2 linked regions of the Homo sapiens genome follow. The protein of the gene in region 1 interacts with the protein of each later gene in a pairwise test. Each region holds a gene or a part of one and is shown in the gene's direction. Other genes may lie near its edges.

Region 1 (3,500 bases):
TATTAATAAATGGAAATTGATTTGAGAGCATTACTGAATTCCTAGTAGGTCAGTATATGTTTCCATCCATCCATAAAAAATACAAGTACAGCTTGGCACAGTGGCTCATGCCTGTAATCCCAGCACTCTAGTAGGCCGAAGCTGGCGGATCACTTGAGATCAGGAGTTCAAGATCAGCCTGGGCAACATGGTGAGACCACGTCTCTACTAAAAATACAAAAATAATTAACCGGGCATGATACTGCATGCCTGTAATCCCAGCTACTCAGGAGGCGGAGGTTGCAATGAGCCGAAATTGCGCCACTGTGCTCCAACCTCGGCAACAGAGTAAGACTCCATCTCAAAAAACAAAAACAAAACAAAACAGAAAAATCAAGTACATTCTATAATGTTGGATGAGCTAAAAAAAAAATGCACGTACATAAAGTGAACCTGTCCCTGACTTTCAAGAGCATACAGATACATTCCATTACATAGATAAATTACATTAAACTGTAGCAAGTGACAAAATAGGGTAAGCACAGAGTGTTTGGGGAGCACAGAATCTGGCCATTCACACAGTCTAGGGCTTCAGAGAAAGCTTTCTGAAGGAGACAACTCATGAGTTAAGTGTTGGAGGATAAGTAAAATTTAGTGGGGCAATGAAAAATAGGAAAAGCATTTACAGTTGAGGACGCAGTAAGATCCAAGGCATGGATGTACAAAATAACGGCAGAAGTGGAAACTCTAAGCAGGTGAAACATTGTAAAATAAGGAAGTAGGTAGGAACCAGATCTTGGAGAAGTTTGTGTGCTACCCTATGGAGCTTGGCTTTTAAGATTGATGATCAATGTAGTGCTTTTTGGGTTTTTTTGTATTGTTTTTGAGATGCAGTCTCACTGTGTTTCCCAGGCTTGAGGGCAGTGGCGTGATCTCAGCTCATTGCAATCTTTGCCTCCCAGGTTCAGGTGATTCTCCTGCCTTAGCCTCCTGAGTAGCTGGGACTACAGGCATACACCACCACGCCTGGCTAATTTTTGTATTTTTAGGTAGACACGGGGTTTCACCATGTTGGCCAGGCTGGTCTCAAACTCCTCACCTCAAGTGATCCACCTCTCTTGGCCACACAAAGTGCTGGGATTACAGGCATGAGCCGCCATTCCCGGCCAATGTAGTGGGTTTTTGTTTTGTTTTGTTGTTTTCCCTGAGACGGAGTCTTGTTTTGTCACCCAGTCTGGAGTGCAGTGGCACAGTCTCAGCTCACTGCAACTTCCGCCTCCCGGGTTCAAGCAATTCTCCTGCCTCAGCCTCCCGAGTCGCTGGGATTACAGGTGCCTGCCACCGCACCTGGCTACTTTTTGTATTTTCAGTAGAAACAGGGTTTCACCATGTTGGCCAGGCTGGTCTTGAACTCCTGACCTCGTGATCTGCCTGTCTCGGCCTCCCAAAGTTCTGGGATTACAGGTGTGAGCAACTGCACCTAGCCCAGATGTAGTGTTTTAATTAGATAGTTCTGATTAAAGTGTGGAGAGTTGGCTGGGCATGATGGCTCACGCCTGTAATCCCAGCACTTTGGGAGGCCAAGGCATGTGGATCATTTGAGGTCAGGAGTTCAAGACCAGCCTGGCCAACATGGTGAGACCCTGTCTGTACTAAAAATACAAAAATTAGCCGGGCAATAGTGGCACATGCCTGTAATCTCAGCTACTTGGGAGGCTGAGGCAGGAGAATCGTTTGAGCCTGTGAGGCAGAGGTTGTGGTGAGCTGAGATTGTGCCACTGCACTCCAGTCTGGGCGAGTGACACCCTGTCTCTAAATAAATAAATAAATAAATAAATAAATAAAGTGTGGAGGGTAGATATTGGGAGGGTAAGAAGAGAGAAGACTAGGAGAAGGACCAGTAGAGATGATGAATACTTAAACTAGAGCAATGGTATTAGGGATAGATACAGGAGGCTCTCTTTAAGAAATATTTGGCTGGGCACAGTGGCTCACACCTGTAATCTCAGCACTTTGGGAGGCCAAGGTGGGCAGATCATGAGGTCAAGAGATCGAGACCATCCTGGCCAACATGGTGAAACCTCATCTCTACAAAAAATACAAAAATTAGCTGGGCATGGTGGCGCGCACCTGTAGTCCCAGCTACTTGAGAGGCTGAGGCAGGAGAATCGCTTGAACCCAGGAGGCAGAGGTTGCAGTGAGCCCAGATCGTGCCACTGCACTCCAGCCTGGCAACAGAGCGAGGCATGGTGGCGCACACCTGTGGTCCCAGCTCTATCTCAAAAAAAAAAAAGAAAATTAGGAGCTATTTATCAGCAGGGTTTAGTGCTTGAGTAGAAAGGCTGTGCATGGGTGAGTGAAAAGAAGTCAAGGATGAATTATTTTTGGCTTAGGGTTGGATGCTGAGAATTTTAACTGACATAGGAAATACAGGAATATCGGGTGTGTTGATTTTGAGATGCCATGTACTGTCCGAGTGAATGTGTCTAGTAGGAAATTAATCTGGATAGGAATGTAGATTTGGCATTCATTGACATATATTTTGCTTTTATACTTCAAAATAAGTTTTTTGGGATGGCCTCAGGCTAAGTAAATTTGCTGTGGAATCTGTTGTAAAAACTAGAATGAGAATTTATTATTTACAGTGAAGAATATAACTATCAAACAAATGGAATGCAAATTATCCCAGTGTTTTTGTGGGGGATACTTCTGAATATTCTACATAAAAGGAAGTATACTCTATTAGTTATTATTGCTGTGTAACAAATTGCTCCAAAACTTAACAGCTTAAAACAACAAACTTTTATTATTTCATAATTTCTGTGGATCAGAAATCTTGGGGCAGCTTAGCTGGATGCTTCTAGCCCAGGATCTCTTTTTCTTCTTTTTTGAGATGGAATCTCACTCTGTCCCTCAGGCTGGAGTGCAGTGGTGTGCTCAGCTCACTGCAACCTCTGCCTCATGGGTTCAAGCTGTTCTCCAGCCTCAGCCTCCTGAGTAGCTGGGATTACAGGTATGCTCCACGAAGCCTGGCTAATTTTTGTATTTTTAGTAGAGACGGGTTTTCCCAATGTTGGCCCACCTGGTCTTGAACCCCTGACTTCATGTGATCCACCCACTTTGGCCTCCCAAAGTGCTGGGATTACAGGCGTGAGCCACCATGCCCAGCCTAGGGTCTCTTATAAGGGTATAATTAAAATGTCAGCTGGAGCTTCAGTTATCTCAAGGGTCAACTAGGGTAGGATCTGCTTAAAAGCTCACTCCCATGGCTATTGGCAGGCCTCAGATCATTAAAAAAAATAAAATTTTAGATTTTTGAATAGTTGTAGATTTATAGAAAAGTTGCAAAGATATTACATAGAATTCCTATATATGGCTCACTCAGTTTCCTCTGTTAACATCTTATATTTGGCTGGCACAGTGGCTCACACCTGTAATCCCAGCACTTTGGGAGGCCAAAGAAGGAGGATTGCTTGAGACCAGGAGTTTGAGACCAGACTGAGCAACATAGTGAGATCTCA
Region 2 (3,730 bases), on another chromosome or scaffold:
TATCTGTTGGTGGCCAAAACCAAGGGGAAGACCACAAAGTGATTGCAATATGTTGATTACCACCCGAAATCAGTCAAGCAAGAGGCCACTTGTACAACCTGTGGCTTCACCCAGCTATGAGCAAATCCCAGCACATAAGATGAGATTGAGGGTCAGAATTTCCATCTCCTTCTTAACACAGGTCCCTAAATCCATCCCTAAGAAACCTCCATGGTCAGGCGCAGTGGCTCACGCCTGTAATCCCAGCACTTTGGGAGGCTGAGGTGGGCGGATCATGAGGTCAGGAGATCGAGACCATCCTGTCTAACACGATGAAACCCCGTCTCTACTAAAAATACAAAACTTAGCCGGGCGTGGTGGCGGGCGCCTGTAGTCCCAGCTACTTGGGAGGCTGAGGCAGGAGAATGGCATGAACCTGGGAGGTGGTGCTTGCAGTGAGCAGAGATCACGCCACTGCACTCCAGCCTGGGCGACAGAGCGAGACTCTGACTCAAAAAGAAACCTCCACTTACTCTCAGAGGTATCTTTACTCTCCGAGACCCTTTAAAATTCTTGACCTTTCTTTTACATCAGGCAATTGGCATCACTAGTGCCAGTTTATTTTTAGATATAAATGTATGTCTGTTTGAAAAATAAACTTTACATCCAAAAGAGAATGACTTGGCAATGAAGTAAAACTGGATCTAATGGTAAAGGCTCAGCCCACCCTTCCTAGATGGATAAAATCCATTTTCTCTAGCCCTGGTTCGAATGTGTCCCATCACTTGTGAGTCCAGACTGGCAACAAAAGGTGCTGATCTAAAAGAAGTTATCGTCCAGTGGCAGGGTCTGGGGAAGGGGCGGCAGGCGCCATGTCCAGCCACGAAGGTGGCAAGAAGAAGGCACTGAAACAGCCCAAGAAGCAGGCCAAGGAGATGGACGAGGAAGAGAAGGCTTTCAAGCAGAAACAAAAAGAGGAGCAGAAGAAACTCGAGGTGCTAAAAGCGAAGGTCGTGGGGAAGGGGCCTCTGGCCACAGGTGGAATTAAGAAATCTGGCAAAAAATAAGCTGTTCCTTGTGCCTAAGGAGACGGTGACCCTTTATTTCATCCGTATTTAAACCTCTCTATTCCCTCCTATAATATCTTTTGCCACCTATAGTTGGAATTAAGTGTCGTCTTGGAGCTGTTGTACATTTAAGAATAAACTTTTGTAAAAAAAAAAAAAAAAAAATCTTCCAGTGGCTCATCATCTCTTTAGTTGTTTTCACTAAGTCATTCCTACCATAACTGTGAATTTAAAGTAAAACCAGCTCAGAATCTTGCCAGAATCTGCTCTTTGGTCGTTGTTCTACCCTAAACTTTGTATCACCTGAAATTAAACCAACTCATTTGAAAGAAAAAAGAAGTTATCATGTTTAGGTGGCGTGACAGGCCAAGCTCACTAGACTGGAGTCAGAGACTCAGGGTTCTGGCCTCAGCCCTTACTCAGCAGTGACCTTGACCAAGCCCCTGCACCTCTGTGAGCCTCAGTGTCCTCATCTGTAAAATGGAGAAGTAAGGCTAAACAATCTCCAACATCCTTGCCAATTAAAACTCTATCATTTCACAGGGCGCAGTGCCTCACACCTGTAATCCCAGCACTTTGGGAGGCCAAGGCAGGTGGATCACCGGAGGTCTGGACTTCAAGACCAGCCTGACCAACATGGCGAAACCCCGTCTTTACTAAAGACTTGGTGGTGGGTGCCTGTAATCCCAGCTCCTCAGGAGGCTGAGACAGGAGAATCGCTTGAACCTGGGAGGCGGAGGTTGCAGTGAGCAGAGATCACACCACTGCACTCCAGCCTGGGCGACAGAGTGAGACTCCATCTCAAAAAAACAAAACAAACAAACAAACAAAAACTCTGTATTTCATACAAAGCTATTTCACCAAAAGCTGAAAACACTTTGTAACCTTATTTATGCAAAACATAAACCAAGATCAAGAGATCCTTATTACATAGAGAAAAAATGTGACATATTTCTTAGGAAAGAGAGTAGCTTCTTACCTGCCAGTGCTAGCTTATGGGCTTAAAGGAGATGGTTCAAAGAATTTCTGGTAACAGAAAGATAATAGGAGCTTGAAATACCCCTGTTGACATCTTGCGAATAAACATTGTGAAAAGGTCTTTGATCTCTTTGTCGTTAAGTCACTTGGAACATGCTTTTCTTGTAAAAGGTTAGTTCCAGTGTCCAAAACAAATTTTAGCTCATCTGATTACCTTCTGCTGATGTAAATCCCGTCTAGCATAGCCTGTATCCTAAGTGGTCCATCCTACAAAGTTCCTGCCGAAGCCTGACTGGGCTGGCCCACCTGCCCAGTGATGAGTGAGTCATCCATATCTACATCTCCTGCTCAAAGAGAACTCCACCATCCCAGATGTGAGCAGCCTGGAGGTGGTGACATTATCACCGTGTAACATACAATTTTGTTTTGCCTTGATCTCCAGGCATGAGGATGACGTTCAACACTTCAAGGTCATGCGAGACAACAAGGGTAATTACTTTCTGTGGACTGAGAAGTTTCCATCCCTAAATAAGCTGGTAGACTACTACAGGACAAATTCCATCTCCAGACAGAAGCAGATCTTCCTTAGAGACAGAACCCGAGAAGACCAGGTATGCTCCAGATCCAGTCGACCCCAATCTAGAGATTTTAGGCAGCCTGAGTTCTCACATGAACCACCAGGAAAAATGCATAGGATGGGTAGATCCTCTGAGTATACTGAAAGACAGAGCTCAGAGCTCTGAGGTCAGATCTCAACTTAACACTTCCTAGTCGTGTGACTTTGGAAAGTTCTCTGCGCCTCAGTTTCCTCATCCATAAAGTAGGGACAATGGTAATATCTACCTCCCAGAATGGCTGTGAAGGTTGGAGAAGATAATGTATCCCACGCCTCATGTCATTCCTCATCACACTGCGCTCAGCAAGCATCAGCTCTTACCACAGGTGCTGTTTTTTTGTTATTCATAGACATTGCTACACCAAAGTTTTCAACCTAGCTCAAGAGTTGCCCAAGGATGAAGGAGTTGGGGGTGCTACAGACAGGGACATTAGGGAACAGCCTAGAGTTCAGGAGTTAAATCAGCATGTGGAGTTTTATGATGGGATTGGGGGTAGGGAGGACATGGGAGGAGAAAACTGCACTTGGAATTATTGCTGTTGCAACTGTTTGCAATACAGACTATTGCTTTAAAAGGAAATGCGTCAGACAGACCTGGTATGAAATCCTGCTTTAATCGCTTAGCTACCTGTATTACCTAGCCAAGTTAAGAAACCATCTGAGTATCAGTTTTCTCATCTGTAGAATGGAGAGAGCAATAAAACCTCCCTCACTGGGCTGTTGTGAGGATTAAATGACTTAATACAGCTAAGCACTACCAGAGTCTGGTCCATATTAAACACTAAGAACATGTTAACTTGCCTCCCATAAGTAAATTCACACATGCACACACTCACACACACACACACACACCAATTTATGAACTATTTTTCAAAGGAAATAACATGGTTATAAGAGACAGGTATCATAGGAAGAAGCATTCACTAGAATAGCTGAAATCCTAGGGACAGGTTATTTGAAAAGATATTGAGACTGTGAAAGCAATGTGTGCTTTGGGGAAGTCAAGAAAATCCTCCTTTTTCGAGTCCCTAGTTGCTTTTAAGCCTGAGAAGTTACTGCCAAAGGAGAAAAGAAGTTACCACCAAATGCA

What was found. The genes of interacting proteins can lie anywhere in the genome.
Region 2: the proteins of PBLD (region 1) and GRAP2 interact in binary tests that used the Homo sapiens proteins (3 or more experiments, as listed by UniProt).

Annotation. Positions count from the first base shown.
Region 1 is NC_000010.11:68,322,929-68,326,428, reverse strand, and holds part of PBLD (phenazine biosynthesis-like domain-containing protein), read left to right. Parts: intron 1-3,500.
Region 2 is NC_000022.11:39,963,524-39,967,253, forward strand, and holds part of GRAP2 (GRB2-related adapter protein 2), read left to right. Parts: intron 1-396; exon of another isoform or gene 397-851; coding exon of another isoform or gene 852-1,046; exon of another isoform or gene 1,047-1,382; intron 1,383-2,466; coding exon 2,467-2,635; intron 2,636-3,730. Other genes in the region: TMA7B (translation machinery-associated protein 7B), read left to right, coding at 852-1,046. UniProt on the Homo sapiens protein: Interacts with SLP-76 to regulate NF-AT activation. Binds to tyrosine-phosphorylated shc.